2 separate regions of the Homo sapiens genome follow, and region 2 is linked to region 1. The links come from fine-mapping of genetic effects on gene expression. Tissue or cell type: testis. Region 1 holds a variant in brackets; the other region holds the start of a gene. All regions are shown on one strand. Distances are from middle to middle.

Region 1 (8,105 bases):
AGGAAGCAGACATTTGTGCTACAAAGTCTACAGAAATTTATCTCTCCCAATTTATCATCAGTTTTTCAGATTATTAAAGCAAATCATTCTCATTGTAGAAAATTTAGAAAACACAATAAAAGAACAAAAAGGAAATAAAATTACCCCAATACTACAACTGGACAAATAACCTTTACTTAATAGCAGCTTGAGAAATAATTCACATACTATTCAATTCACCCATTTAAAGAACATAATTTTATGGTTTTAATATATTCACAGTTGTGCAATCATCACTACAGTAATTTTGAGAACATTTTAATCACTCCCTCTATACCCATCATTTCCCTTCCCCAACCCTAAGCAACTACTAATCTACTTTCTGTCTCTACAGATTTGCCTCTTCTGAACATTTCATGTAAATGGAATCATACATGGTCTTTTATATCTAGCTTCTTTTACTTGCATAATATTTTCAGGGTTCATCCTTGTAATTTGTGCCAGTACTTCAGTCCTTTTCATGGCCAAATCATATTTTGCTGTATGGGTAGACCACATTCCATTGATCCATTCCTCAGCTGATGGACATTTGAGTGGTTTCCACTTTCTGGCTATTGTGAATAATGCTGCTATGAACACTGGTATACAAGTTTTCGTATGAACAGCTGTTTTCATTTCTCTAGAAGTGGAATTGCTGGTCATATGGAAACTATATGAGGAATCAGTTTAACTCTTTGAGGAACTACCAAACCGTTTTCCAAAAACAGTTGTACCACTTTATATTCCCACCAGCAATTAATGAGGGTTTCCACTGCTCCACATCCTTGCCAGTGTTTGTTATTGGCTGTCTTTTTCATTATTGTCATCCTACTGGTTGTGAAGTAGTATCTTACTGTGGTTTTGATTTGTGTTTGAGACAGGATCTCACTCTGATGCTAGGCTGGAGTACAGTGGCATGATCTCAGCTCACTGTAGCCTTGACCTCTGGAGCTCAGGTGATCCTCCCACCTCAGCTCCTAACTGGGATTACTACAGATTCACACCACCACAGCTAGCTAATTTTTGTATTTTTTGTAGAGACAAGGTTGTGCCATATTGCCCAGACTGTTCTCAAACTCCTGGGCTCAAGCGATCCACCTGCCTTGGCCTCCCAAAGTGGTGAGATTACAGGCGTGAGCCACCACACCCAGCCTGAGCATCTTTTCATGGGAAAACTGGCCATTTATTTATCTTCTTTAGAGAAATGTCTATTCAGATTCTTTCCTCATCTTTATGTTGTGTTTTCTGTCTTTTTAATTAGAGTTGTAAGAATATATATTCTAGACACAAGTCATTTGTCATATATATAATTTGCAAATGTTTTTCCCATTCTGTGGGTTATTTTTTCATTTGCTTGGTTGTATTCTTTGTAGCACAAAAGTTTGCAGTTTTAAAGTCCAGTCTGTCTATATTTTCTTCTGTTGCTTTTGCTTTTAGTGTCATATCTAAGAAACTACTGCCTAATCCAAGGTCATGAGGATTTACATTTGTGTTTTCTTCTAAGAATTTCAGCTCTTATATTTAGATCTTGCATCCATTATGATTTAATTTGTGTTTATGGTGTGAGGTAGGGGTTCAACTTCATTCCTGGAAAAATAGGTTTTCAGAGTCACTTTTCTTACCTTATATACAAACTAAGTCAATGGAGACTGCTATTTTTACCATGGCAATAGTGGCTAGCTGCAACCCCCATCTATGCAAATTATATAGCATTGATAGGGAATATGAAATGGCAAATGCATTTATCCCTAAAATTAATTTTGTCTTCTGCTCCACCTCCTCTCTGAGTCCCCTTCTACACAGACACTTTATTAAAAGAAACATTTTTCAGTGAGATGGCCCTTTGGAGTATCTAAGTCTGTTGTAATGCTAGAGGATCTTTTCCCAAGATAAAATAATCTAAGAGTCTGAGTAACTGTTAGCAAATTCTGGAACTGTCATCAAGGTTCAGCAACTTTCCTTTATATAAGGCATTTTTCTAACCTCATAGAATGACTTTATGCTTCCATATGCAAGGGACAGTTTAAAGAACTTAAAAAAGTCATGTTTAATAGATACTTTGTAGATATTCTTTATTTTTTTAAATGTGCATTTAATTCAGAAATAAGATGTGGTAAAATTTTTCAAGATCCCATCTTACCTCTCTTTATTCTGCCATCTCGTGCAAGGCAGCCATGGGGTGGCACACTGGTCACAAAGATGGGCAGCTCACCACTCTTACTTCCCCTGCCCCCAGCAACGGTCATGCCAAGGGATTCATGTGGTTCCTTCTTTACAGTAATGTGTTTTTCTTGGCATGTAACACACTGAGTAAGATCCTAAAACATACAAGAAAAAAATCATTGGATAATGAATAAAATATAGTTGAAGTAAAGTTATTACTTCAAACTAAGGTAATAACTTACATGGCATTTATAAAGTAATTATTTTTTATTCCTTAATTGCAAATGAAAGTAATACACAGTTCTTAATAAGTCTGCTGTGGATCAATGTCAAATTTTGGACTATGTTATTTTCATGACTGTTTATGTAGCTGAAAAAACTCAGGACTGCTGAAATACAGCAGTCAAAGTAAAATAAGCACATCATTTGTATAATTTGTTTGAGCTTCATGTTTGATCAACTTCACAAAAGTAAATGATGCTTTTGAGTTTTAAGATTCTGAAGACAAATCAATTAATTTTACTTCCATCTTTCCCCCATTTCTTTGACAGAAAAGTTGACAGAGTAGTACAAAAGTGTAGATTTTGGCAACTGCCAGAAAAAGGTCATCGACCTATCTCCTGATTCTCACTGACTACTACTATGAGTGCTCAATCATGAAGAAGATGCAAATCTACCTTCAAAATCTTCATGAAAAGCTAAAAGGATATAAAATGACTGAATTTTTGAAAAAGTTAATGACAGGGAAATAAATTCCCAACAAATTAATATCTCCTATTTTTACTGACATTTGTTACTACTACTTATTATTGAGATGTTCCTGGAAGAAAAAGAATTTAAAACATCACTTTTCTTTTGAATTAGAATTCAGTAAAAAATAAGATGTACATATGCAATATTAATATTAAAATAATAATTAACATTTGGGCTTAGCCTGTGAAAAGCTAATGCCTTTACATGCATTATTTCATTTAACCTTC[A/G]CAAAAGTCCTGAAATTATATATTATTATTGACCCCATTTTACAGATGATGAAACAAACTTAGGGAGGTCATGTAACTTGTCCTGAATCATGTTAATATAGGCAACTGTCCTGGGATTCAAAATTTACGTATGTTAAAAGAATGTACTATATATTAATACAAATAGTATTTTGTATATGTTTATATAGTGTGATAGACTACATGTACATATTGTATATATGCACCTACACAAGAACTATCCCATTAAGTGTACAGTGTAAGATAATGTCTCAGAAGGTTTTAACACTTATTAACTGTTAAGAGAATGTTGTAGATAATTAAAATTGTTAATAATATAAAAAATACAAATTACATTCACAGAATTATAACATTTCCTTAAATCACATTAGAGAATTGACATGTATTTAACTGTTAATAATGGCATTTATCAAATCTCTAAATCAGGGCCTGGAATTCTAGGCCTATCTACCCTTCTCCAGATGTGAAATCTATACTCTTGAAATTTTACCAAAGGAGCTATGTGTAATAGCAGCATAGTATTCCCAGAAAATGTTATGACCAAGGAGAAAATCTGTAAATGTTTTAAGGCAATCTCCTATCTAAAGGTATGAAATTTTTGTCAGCAGCCTTCAAAATTAGACAAACACAACTTTATTCTGAAGACAACTCAGGTAAACTCAACCTTGAGTATATTCATTTAAGCAGGTTCAGCCCTTACATATTTAAGCAAAGTGTGGGTATTTTATTACTCTAGGTGTCTAAAATGTATGCAATTTTTACCCAGGAACCCAACCAAACTTCAAAGATTATACTCAGTTTGCTTCAAGGAACTTCCTAAAACAAACATGAATGTTTATCAGAACAGCTACTGGGAAGCTTTATAGAAGACTAATATATACTTTAATTTTTTCAGAATGATTATAATTGTCTGAAAAGATTGTTTTGGTGAATGTGTATGTGTTTTCCCTAGGAGACCTTTACTTTTCTGTATCAGGATTTGACAAAACAAATGGAGCATCTTAGTAGTAAATAGCTAAATGAACACATTCCATTTCAAGTGGTTTTTCTAACCAGCCAGGTTTGCAGAGTGCCTGGAATAGAATAAATTCAGCATCACTATTTAGAACATTGTCATATAAAATTAAAGAGAATGAGAATTAGCATAGTTATGACAGAAAAATACATGTGCCCACAACAAATTGAATTAAGGAGAGTTTGCTATAGGAATACTGGAATTATTAATTACAGTTTTTCAAACTCTCTTAAAACTATAATGTTGTTATATACACCCCTATCTCAAATTATAAAATTCAATAACATAAAAGATTCAATTATCAACTTGTACCTTATATTATAGTTTTATATGTATAAAAAACTTGTAAAGCAAGGACTAGCTATATGAAACAACACCTATTCAAAAAGTCCTGTTTAAAACAATTACCCCTTTTCCACAGTCATTATTTAAAGGCAAATTATAGGTTTCCTTCATACATTTTGGTTTTGCTCAGAAATGAGAATGAAGTCTGTGATTATAATTTCTTTTTAGTATTAACTAAATCAAAGACCAATGACAAGTCTGTAGAGAACTTAAGCTCAGAAAACCATATAAACCCAATGGGCCAAAAATACTGTGTCTTTAAGCTATGCTTTCTTAGGGTACCAGAGACAGACTCCAAAGCTAATTATTCACTCAAATGTTACTTTCAGGTGACAATAAATAAGTTTTTGCTTAGTAAAGCAATTTAATTTTACTTAAGGAGAATTACTCTGGTAGGTCACATTTAGCTTTTATTTTTGCATAATTGGGTAAGCATAACATCATTGTTTTAAAACTTCTGGCCCACTGGAAGTTAAGAGTTCAAATGAAGGATGAAATGAAGTAAATAATATCAAGAATGCTAAAGTATCATCCTTTCAGATTTTTGGACTGAAAGTGAGGTAGCATCAAAATTCTCAGCTCAGGTAGAATACATTATAAAACCAGTGAAATACTGATTCTGAAGAAACAGTAACAAAGCTTAACATATGGAAATTTTAAATGATTTAGGGTAATATTCCTCTAAGCTTTAACATAAAAAGAAATATGCTATATATGTACCTATCAAATACGTAAATATGCTATATATGTACCTATCAAAATTCATGATTCATATGTTTAATCTTCATGTATCTAATTCAGGTTCTGTAGGCAACAGGCTCAATTATTAAGCATAGATTTGTCAATCTTGTCTTATGTTTTTTCATCAACTAACTCTTATATTTAAATAAGCAACCCAAGATAAATTCCACTTTCAAGTAGGATTAAACAGATAGAAGATTTCACGCTTCTTGTTAATCGCCTGGCAAAGGAAACTTCCCCTCCAAGAAACTATCTCCAGATCTAAGGAACAAAGCAGTCACTTTCCAAGGTAGCAAAACATATACATTTCATATTCCAAACACCTATATTTTTCAACAGAATAACAACCCTCATTTGAATCTTTTTTTTAAAAAAACTGCTTTATTGAGGTGTGACTGACACACAAAAAAACCTTCATTTAAATCTTACCAGCTTGTAACAATGATCCTTTGATGGTGGCATAAAAAAAAAAAAAAATCCTCACCTTATGTGAGCTTGGTCTGCTATAATACGGTGGTGGTGTGTGGTGCTGGCTGCTGCTGCTATGATTTCCTGCTTCTCTAATGGTGTTACCAGGCTGGGGTTTCCCTGGTCTAGCAATTGTTAAATTCACTCTCTCTCCACTGGCCTGGAGAAAACACAAATACATTACCATAAGTGACTAATGATGTTTGTCATTTTAAAGATTACACACAGTGTAATTTTCAATGAACTTCTTAATCACTGTACCAGGGCGTCATCTGGACAGTGACTGCAAGCACCTGGTGGCAAGAGGAATGAGTTCATTTCATTAGCTAATATCTTAAAACTTCAGCAGTTGAAGCACATACACACAAAAATCTTGGGCATGCCGTCTGCAACCCCACCTCCAAAATGACCAAGGCAAAGTGGTCACACTGCCTGGGCTCTTATTGCCCCATGATTGGTAACTTTTCTTGTAATACTTCTTTGCATCTTCAAGGTTGGCCTTAATATTGCAAGACAGAGCAAAGGAAATAAAAGGAAGAACTGCTTCAAAACTTGATTAAAGTCCATTGTGACTTTTGAAATAAATTTCCATGGTGGCTACTTCAGAAATCATAATGAAATTCTGCACAGCTTTGTTTCTGCTGCTATAGGTCTGAGTCAAAAGTAGGATATCGGCTTCAACATTCTTGAAAAGAATGACTACAGAAATCCTGCATAACAAGACTTTATATGTATGTGTGTATATATATATATATATATAGCATACTTGTGTGAATGTGACACACGTCTCCAGTGTTAAATTATTTTAGAGGTTCATGACTGTCGTTTTAAATTTAGAGGCTTGTTAGCTATCATATTTTGAACATATGTTTACATTGGTTACATTTTTACAAGTTATTTAATACTTCCTTTTAAATTATAAGTCTAATTTATTTGATGCTGACTCTTGGTCATGACCACAATGCCCAATTTTACTGTAATTCCTATGGGAAAATATGATAGCCTGCTTTAAAGAAATTGTGGTACAAAGTGGAGACCTCTCCCATGATTATAGTCAATAATGTTAAGAAATCACTTTATTTTCAAATCTTACATTAGAAAAGAAGTAAGAAACAAGTTTAATGCCTTACTAAAATCATTTACTATTGGTCTCCTTTTAAGACATGGAGTATATGTTATTTTTTAAAATCCAAAAACAATAACGCTTTTACTTATTTTCAAAAAGAAACAGAGCAACTTTAGTTTTCCATTATTTGGAGAAAATTATAGCACAAAATACGTTGAAACTATTTATAACATCCAAATATAAAATATGATCACGGACAATTTAAAATACATTTTCTATCTGTGTATCTGTATTTTTCACATTTTGGTTAGAAATTTAGTTAGAATCATCCAATTGAATGAACTAGATTAGATAATTTAAACATTGCCTGAAATACATATAGTCCATCTATTATTTTCTATCTTATTGATCTGGCCTCTCACTTGACTCTTTTACTCAAACAGATGCTATAACTCTATTAGCTTTCTTCTTCCTCCTCCTCTTTTCTCCCCTCCCTCCCACTAATCTCCACTCTTACAAGATGAGCTGGGTTTTAGTGGTGCAGCTGCTGGCTAATACCCACAGATATAGGTCCTAATGTTGCCTTTGATTTGAGGAAATTTTAAGGCATCCAATTTCTTTAAACCTCAAGTCTATGAAATTAGACCAATATCAGAATCTCCTCTCAATACAATAAAGAGAGTTGAGACTTGAATTTTCTTATAGTCTTAAATTTTCATTGTTATTTGATTCTGTGTTGTAAACACATTCTTCAATGACTATCGGCCTACCCTACTTCCTGATCCTCAATTACATAATTCTTGGTTTCCTTTACAGTGTTTTGTTTTGCTAACTTTAAGAAAAACATCTTTTTGTTGCACCCTTATCACTGTAGAAGTTGCTCATATCATTAAATGCTATGGCATGTTGCAGAATGTATAGATCTCCTCTGGATGACTTTCCAACTTATCCATCTTCATGCTTTTATGAAAAACATGTTCTTTCTCTAATAATGACTATCCTTACTTATGTCACAAAGATGCTATGAGGACAAATTTTATCATGTATTTTAAACACTGTGAATTCCTTAGAAACAACAACAAAGCACTATAGAGATAAGAGTTATTCTTCCTCTATTTATATAGATCCTGACAGGGAGTTAAGAGACCAGGTAAGTCAGATCCTTGGTAATCACAGCTCTTTTGAGCCTCCCTTTCCTCACTTCTAAAAGGTGGACATATCATCTGCTACATCTGGCTTAATAGTAGAACCCAGGACCCAAATGAGAAATGAATGTGAAACAGTAGAGCCT
Region 2 (8,105 bases), 63 kb after region 1:
TTGATGGTGGCCAAAATATATTTTAAGGATAGAAATGCCTAATATTCAATGTCAACACTTCTGATATCGCTCCACTGTGAACCCCTTCACCCTCCCCTTCCTCTAAATCTCTCATAAAGCTTACCATACTCATAAAGCCTTTCTGTGAACTCTTTTTCTTTTCTATTCTTTCCTAGCTCCTGTGAGACACAACTATCCAACAACTGCATCATGGATCTCTCAACCATCCATTTAGCACCTCCTTAGATTAGTCCAAAACTGAACTTATCTTCCCTTCTACACCTCTACCATCAATTGTTTTTAACTGCTCCTTCTCATATCCTCCAACATTCCACTAGCTCATTAATGTCATCATCTAAAGGAACAACTAATATTTACTGAGCACTTGGAATGTGCTAGGTACCCTGCCAAAGGCATTACATGCATAATTCCTCAAACCCTACTCAACAGGTACGACAATCATTTCCCAAATGTTAGGAAATCAAAGTTCTGTCAGGATAGTTATTCTAAGGGTAAGTAATAGAATTAGAATTTGACCCGTTTTAATTTCACAGCCAGCTTACCCAGTACATGTCAATCAATGCCTGAAGTCAAACAACCCAGGATTCATCCTTCCCTCCTTAAGCCTACCCAGTCACTTACCTAGTCCAGCCTCCTAGTCATACCTCTTAAACACCACGTCATTTCTCCTTCCACTGCCAGCACACTAGCATTTACTAAGTCCTTACTATCTGGCAATCACTATTCTAAGTAATAGACATGTTTTTTCAAGTTCTATCCCCCAAACTCTGAGATGACAAACCTAAGGAACAAAGAGGTTTCAGTGTATGACAGAGCCTGATTCCACCCCAGGTAATCTGAATAGAGAATCCCTGAGCACTTAACCCCTCCATTAGAACAGCCTCCAACTTAGTCTCCATATCGCCCATCTGGAAGCCCACCATCCTCCAGACGCTGCAGATATCTTTCTGGAATGCTTACCCGTTATCATGACATTCTCCTGCTTAAAATTAGCAGCTCAGTATCACTGACTGGATAAAGTCCAAATTTCTTAATCTGGTATAAAAAATCCTTCATTTTTCTGTTCAAGTCAATTCAGTAAATATTTTAGTGCCCAATGTAAGCAAGAAAAGGTGCCAAGTGTTCTGAAATGAATAATACATGTCCCTGACTACTACCTCCACCTCGGACACTGGGTCCTTCGGCCAGACAAGCCCATATGCAAAGCTCGTAATACAACAGCCCAAAGACACATACATTTATTTTTAAGTGGCCTGCGTGCTACGTGCCTACAATGTACGAAATCCCAAACCAATCTGAAGACTAAGTGCCTACGTAACACCTATTCTTACAGGTCTCCAGGCAGAAATGCTCCCTAAGTTCAAATTACTTCAGGGTAACTAGTGGGATAAAGGCATGGATCAGTTTCCAAATGAGAAAACTGGGCAAGAAGCAACCCCCGCCATCAATGGCTGGCATGCAGTAGGTACTTTATCAGTGGCTAAATGAATAAATAATGAAAAAATTTCAAAGTTGATGAGAGAAACAAGATATATGGAGAATGTAACACACAAGTGGGCCGAATTAAAAGTGATGTTATTCTACTTTGGTTCTCATTTGGCCTACTTTTACCCCATGGGAAAACTCACATGTGGGACTCGGACAAGCTAAAAAGCCAAAACTTTGTTATTCATGGCTCAACAAAGCTTTGACAAGCCAAAAAGGATACCAGATTCCCGCTTCCTTCTTTACCTGCCAAAGTCCATTTTCTAAAGAGGTGTGGGGGTGGGAATCAAATCTAGCAAAGTAAATAAAATTGATCTACTGAGATCCAACTTCATTAGTGCTGCATCGAAGTACATGCAAAAGAAATATCAAAACCTGTCCTGGGAAGAAGGCCAATTTACAAGTAAGTACTATTGCCGCAAGAATGTGAAATTCTTAAAGGCAGTTCCAATAAGCTGGAGCTCACAAGTGTTCCTCCTCCTGCACCGCCACCGCTTTTCACTCAACTTTGTTTCTGATTTCTGTGATTTTAAAAAGCATAATATACACAGCAAAGCCCATGCATAAGTGTACTTTAGCTCCTGGTACAAACGAACGTCTGGATTCATAAACTTAACGTAAACTGAAATACTAAAAGAAACACTACATGAGTCAAAAGTCCTTGTTTAAAACGTGGCATACAGCTTTGAAAAGCGAGTGATGTATTTCCTGAATGATGCTTTGTGTGCAACTGCTTCCAAATCAAGATTCATATTTTTAAATTACCCCCTGGAAGATGTCAAATCTCTCTCCCACCCTCTCCAGCCTAAAGAGAAAGGTGAGAATTCACAGGCAACAGGCTGGGGCGGAGGGAATGATCTCTCCCCATCCCTTTCCAGAGAACAAAACCCGATAAAGGCAGCTAGTGCCACTCTCATTGCCGACACCACACACACACAGAGGAAATTTAAACACTCACCCCACCTCTCCCTTCCCTTAAGAAGCAAACGACGCCAAGCTCTGCACCACGGTGGCCGGAACCAGCAAACGCTAACAGCCGGAGGCCGCCCGCCTCCCGGGCGCCTGCAGGCGGCGGGCACCGGGCGCCGACTCTCCCTCCTGGACCAGACCCACACCCGAGTCCACGCCAGCCCCGCAGCCCGGGCGAGCGAAGACAGCCGCGAAGGACCAAGGCTCCGGGGCGAGCTGTGGCGCCGCTCCGGCCGCCTCCCGGGGCGCGGCGCTGACCCACACCCAGCTGACGCCCGCACCTGAGGCGGCTGCCCGCAGCCAGCGAGAGGGCGCGCAGCGAGGCGGGCAGGGCAAAGTTACTCACTGGGAAAGCGCGGCTGCCCGGGCCGCGCACGGGCTCCTGGCGCCGCTGCTCGGCACCAGCTCCCGCTCTCCGCGGCCCGCTGAGGGAGCGGAGAGCCTGCCCGGCTCCGCTCCGCCAGGAATCGCCGCCGCCGCCGCCGCCGCCGCGGATTTCCTGGCAAAAAGCAAACTCCGGCCAAGACTTCACTTCTCAACCGCCCCTGCTGCCTTCCCGGGGGCAGCGCCAAGGCCGAGCGGCCCAACCCGCACCCGGGCCAATCGGAGGTAGCACAGGGCGGGAGGTGGGCGGACCAGAGGGCGGCTCCACCTATCCGAGAGCTCGGGAGGCGGGCCAGAAGGGACCCGTCACTCCCGGGTTAGAGTGAGACCACTCCGCCCTCGCCGCCCGCCTCCCCCACTCGCCCCGGGCTGTCCCCGCCGCCCGCCTGATTCCCCTGCGGAAGCCCCGCTGGCTAGGTGTCTGCGCGCACCCCCGGCCGCCGCCAAGAGTGGCACAGCTGGGGAAGGAGTGAACATCCAGAGGAATCGCGGGGCGGGGTGGGGGGAGGCCAGGAGAACAGGTGGCGCAGGGAAGCAGAAACGTAGTTGCGCTGGACAGCTGGAGTCGGGCAGGGTCGGGGCCAGCGGCGAGGGGACAAGAAGGGCCGATTCGAGAGGAAGCGCACCTGAGGGAGCACAGCGAAGGCCGGGACGCAGGGAGCTGGATGGAGAGCGAGCCTGGGCGGCGAAAGGTTGCCGAGGCGGGGGCTGGGCGCCTGGGAACAAAGGTGAGGGCGGGTTCCGCAGGTGAGGAGGTTTGAGGAGCCACTGGGGAGAAAGGGAAAAGGAAGTCTACAGCCGGAGAGGACGCGCTCTGGGGGTAGAAGGAATCCTAGGACGGAAAGGATAAGGTGGGAAACAGTTTTCTCCCAAACTCTCACTCCCCCAAAAGAGACATTTCTTTCTTGCCCTATTTTGACCCAGTTGAAAATGCAACTGCAAGCTCCCCGGTGAAACAAATACCGCCTTCAACCTTCGTATTCTGTGGTGACTCATCTCGCACGTGACCCCCCTCCCTCTTCAAGGTGTGTTGACCGACTACAGTTTAAGCCTGTCGTCCCACAAAAGGCCCGGGAGGGCCGGGGTCCCAGGAAGGGCCATCCTGGGTCAACACCGCCCCAGTTGGGAAGTCGGGCCGCTTTCGGACTTGCCACTGGGAAGGGAAGTGATTTGGGGGCGGCAGGTAAGGCCGCGCCCCTTCGCCATCACCTGGGGAAAGGTACCAGAGTTGAGCCGGGGCGCCCGCAGGCCTGTCTGGGCCTCGGGGTAAGGCGGCGCTGGCCCCGCCCCCTGCCCCTCCCGCCGCGAGTGGCCTCGCGTGGTCGCCCAGGTGAGCCGCGGGGCCGCGAGCCACCGCTCACCCCGCGTCGGGGCGGGGGCTGGGGGTGGAGCCTCATGCCCCGCCCCGCGGCTGGGCCCTGCCGCGCCGCTGCGGCTCCTCCTCCCTCCTTCCGTCCTCCGCGCCTTCCGTCGGTCGGTCCTTGCTTCCTGCTTCGCCTCCGCGCCTCGCGCTATGGGACAGAGCCCCCGATCCGCCAGCACCACCTGAGGATCCAGAAACCGCCCCAGCGATGGAAGAGGATCAGGAGCTGGAGAGGTAACGGCCGAGGAGGAGGCGGGCGGAGCGGGCCGCGCCCAAGGGGAGCGGGTGGCCGAGGGGCACGCTGCCTGGCCTGGCAGCCGGGGCCTGACTCGGGGCGCAGAGAAGAAGCATGGAGAGAGAAGTGGGGAGGAGACATGAATGTGTTTCAGTTGAGAGGCTGAGAGGTACACTAGCTATCAAGGAGGGAAGACAAGTTGGGAGACCAGAGTTAAGTATCCGAACTGCCCACCCCCGTTACAACAGCAGTGTGTAAAAATCACGCCCCGGGCCTCTGCTCCTGAGGACGGTACTCGTGCCTCTGTCCCTGTAACTACGGCTCACCTTCTTTCTATGTGCAGACTGCTCCTAAAGCCACTCTGTGCGCTGAGCTCTTTTTCTCCCTGCTGCTTGACTCCTGAACCTTCCATTCTCCTAGTTTCCTTCTCTTGCAAAATGGAAGCCGTAGTTGGGCCTGCACATTGATCATCTGTATCCTCTATTTTTATACTAGAGCAATCGGGATTTCTATGCCTTTCAACCCTCTCTTCATCCTCTAGCAGGACCAGTCCTATTCTAATCCTATCCCTTGCTTGTGACTCTACCAAAAAATATTTTTGCAAACACTTAAGTTTGTGTTTTTCTAAGAAAACTCCCCTTGTGGCCAGTGTGGATGGTCAAATGGAGCAGGGAAAAACTGGAGGCAATAAATTAAATATTTATTGATAGAGTTTGTGGAGGCAGGAAAATGAGAGGCGAATAATTCTGTGTAGCTGGAGTAGATTAATAATAATGTGTTGCAATGTGATATAGTAAATGAGAAAAAGCTAGTTACAAAACAATATTCAGTATGATCTCATTTTTATAAAAAATATGTGTGTAGAAAAATATCTGGATTGAAGACCTCAATGGCTGAAGGCGAGAGGAAGACAGCCCTGGAAATGGTCCAGGCAGCTGGAACAGATAGACACTGTGTGACATTTGTATTGCACGAGGAAGACCATACCCTAGGAAATTCTCTACGTTACATGATCATGAAGAACCCGGAAGTGGAATTTTGTGGTTACACTACGACCCATCCTTCAGAGAGCAAAATTAATTTACGCATTCAGACTCGAGGTACCCTTCCAGCTGTTGAGCCATTTCAGAGAGGCCTGAATGAGCTCATGAATGTCTGCCAACATGTGCTTGACAAGTTTGAGGCCAGCATAAAGGACTATAAGGATCAAAAAGCAAGCAGAAATGAATCCACATTCTAGTCCTTTATGCAGTATACAAGGAGAACTGTCCTGTAGGATATTCTCTTCCTGATGGTGCAGAACCCAGAATTAGAAGTTTGTGGTTACAGCATACTCTGTCCTTCAGAAAGGCGTGATTCTAGCTGTTGACCCCTTGCAGCTGTTGGAATCTCTGCAAGAACCTCTGTATTCTTCTAATAAATTCCCTCTTTTATTTAAACTAGTTTGACTGGTTTCTGTTCCATGCAACCAAATGGTCCTTGAGGATGACTTTTTTTCTAATTAAGCCAGCATTGAAAATGAGGAAACTGAGAATATCAGAGGCCTAGACAAGAACTGTGATCATGGGAATTAAAAGAAGTATATATCCATGTCTGTAGTTGGAGTGGTGGGGGTAAGGGAAGAGACAAAAACCATGACCCCAGTTAGATTGTTGTTTAAAAACAGAAGGAAAGAAGATTGGGGTGGGGACTTGGCTTCTTGCTAAACTTTTTGGCTTTTAAAGAATTGCATCATTTGCTGTGATTGGTAGACTTGGCAAGGGTGGGAATAATTTGGAAGAAGTGTGAGAATTCTGGTTTTACATGAGAGTTTTAGGGAGTAAGGCTCCATCTTTGAGGCATTTACAGGAAAGATACCAGTTTACTGCTTGAATTTTGGGATATACTTAGTCATGATCTAAGTAAGGTAAGATGTTTTGATTATATTACAGAAGGAGAAAATTGGGATGACTAGAAAACATTTTCAGTCCTTAAGTAGGTATAGCCTAGGGTAATGTAGAAGAAGCCCTATTTGAGAGAAGGTAAAGCCAAGGAGAAGGAAAATTCCATATAGGGGAAATGACTGTTTTGGAAAACACATATCCCACCCGCCAGTGCTCTGTGCTTTGGGCCCTTGTTTATCTATCCCCTCTTCCTGGGCCAGTCTTACTCCTGCCGTACTCTTAAGTCAAAGCTTATGTGTCAGGCCTCTCAGCCTAGTTTGGGTACTTCTTTGTGCTTTCATTACACCCTGTGTTTCCTGGCCTTGGCATTTACTATGCTATTGGTAGTGCTTATCTTGTTTACCCACTAAACCAACTTGGAGGTCAACATGATTCTGGTACCTGGAACACCTGACAGGTAGTGGACACTTAGTAAATACTCTATGAATTCATGTAAGTAGTTATGGCATGCAGCTTTTCAGTCACTCAAACCTGACCTCTTACACTAGCGTGCCATAGAGCCTACATTTCCTACACTCAGCCAAATTCTTTAAAGAGATATCCATATTTTTGAGCACTAGTATGTTCCAGGCCTTGGGGATAGATATATAGCTATAGTGGATGAGACAGAGTAAGTCCTGTTCTCATAAAGCATGTGTTATAAGAGCCCCTTAAAAAAAAATTGTGAGGCTCGGCATGGTGGCTCACACCTGGGAAGCCAAGGTGGGAGGATCACTTGAGCCCAGGAGTTTGAGACAAGCCTGGGCAACATGGGGAGTCCCTGTCTCTACAAAAAAATAAAAAAGGTAGCCAGGCATGGTGACACATGCCTGTAGTCCCAGCTGCTTGGGAAGCTGAGGCGAGAGGATATCTTGAACCTAGGAGGTTGAGGCTGCAATGAGCCATGATCACACCATTGCACTCCAGCCTGGGTGACAGAGGGAGACCTTGTCTCAAAAAAATATATAAAATTAAAAACTTGTAATTCTGTAAAAGCAGCAAATGTAGGGTCAAGATAGAAAACATAAGAAAGGAATCTACTTTAGGCACGGAAGTTAGGAAAGGTGTTCTAGAGATTACAGGAAGGGAGAGAGCTGGCTGTGCAAAGAGGAGAGAAAATGCATTCTGGGGGTATAGCATGTGCAAAGGTCCTAAAGCAGAAAACTGGTGGCATGAGGAACTGAAGATATTGAACAAAGATTTGCATGTTTTTGTAGCACAGTAGACAAGGAGAAGGGCCTGTCCTCTGGAGTCCATGGGAGGAAGAGTTGGGGTAGTAGGGATTTTGGATTTTAGGTTCAGTGGGAATGACGTCTTCTTTACTTTGATTACAGAGTGGGGGGAGATGAATTATAGGGAGGCTGGAGTAGAAGCAGAGAGAGACACTATAAAGAGTTGAAGTGGCCTGGAAGGGTAGAAGCTAGTGATGGAGAAGAGAAGGTAGGTTTGAGGTATATTTTAGAATTGAATTGGCACAGAATTGGTACACTTCAGGAACTGTGGAAGATGAAGAATCAAAGATGACTACTGCCTAGCTTTGGGGCCAATTACTGAAATTGGGAAGCTTAAAATGGAAAATAGATTGGGAGGTGGAAAAGATGATAGGAGTCAAAAGTTTCATTTGTGAACATTGTAAGCAGTGGCTATGTGAGTTGGAGATCGTGGAAGAGATCTAAGCTGGAGACAAATTTTATGAGTCCTTGCCATAAAGATGACATAAATTGAT

What was found. PIP is the estimated chance that this variant, and not a neighbour inherited with it, causes the effect.
Region 2: it holds the start of POLR1D, and the variant in region 1 is fine-mapped to the expression of POLR1D in testis (GTEx, PIP 0.97).

What each region holds. Positions count from the first base shown.
Region 1 is chr13:27,554,078-27,562,182 of GRCh38, forward strand. It overlaps LNX2 (ligand of numb-protein X 2), which reads right to left. Exons shown (of 10, transcript NM_153371.4): 6 at 5,765-5,908; 7 at 2,159-2,336. Among named protein-coding and RNA genes, the nearest start is that of LNX2, 62 kb to the right of the region's middle. The variant A/G (reference allele first, on the strand shown) is at 3,162.
Region 2 is chr13:27,617,554-27,625,658 of GRCh38, forward strand. It overlaps POLR1D (RNA polymerase I and III subunit D), which reads left to right and starts at 4,339. Exons shown (of 2, transcript NM_015972.4): 1 at 4,339-4,456; 2 at 5,322-5,896. The coding sequence starts at 4,431. The coding sequence ends at 5,697. LNX2 (ligand of numb-protein X 2) reads right to left here and starts at 2,976. Exons shown (of 10, transcript NM_153371.4): 1 at 2,822-2,976. RefSeq lists silencers at 2,526-3,415, 4,036-4,595 and an enhancer at 3,004-3,732.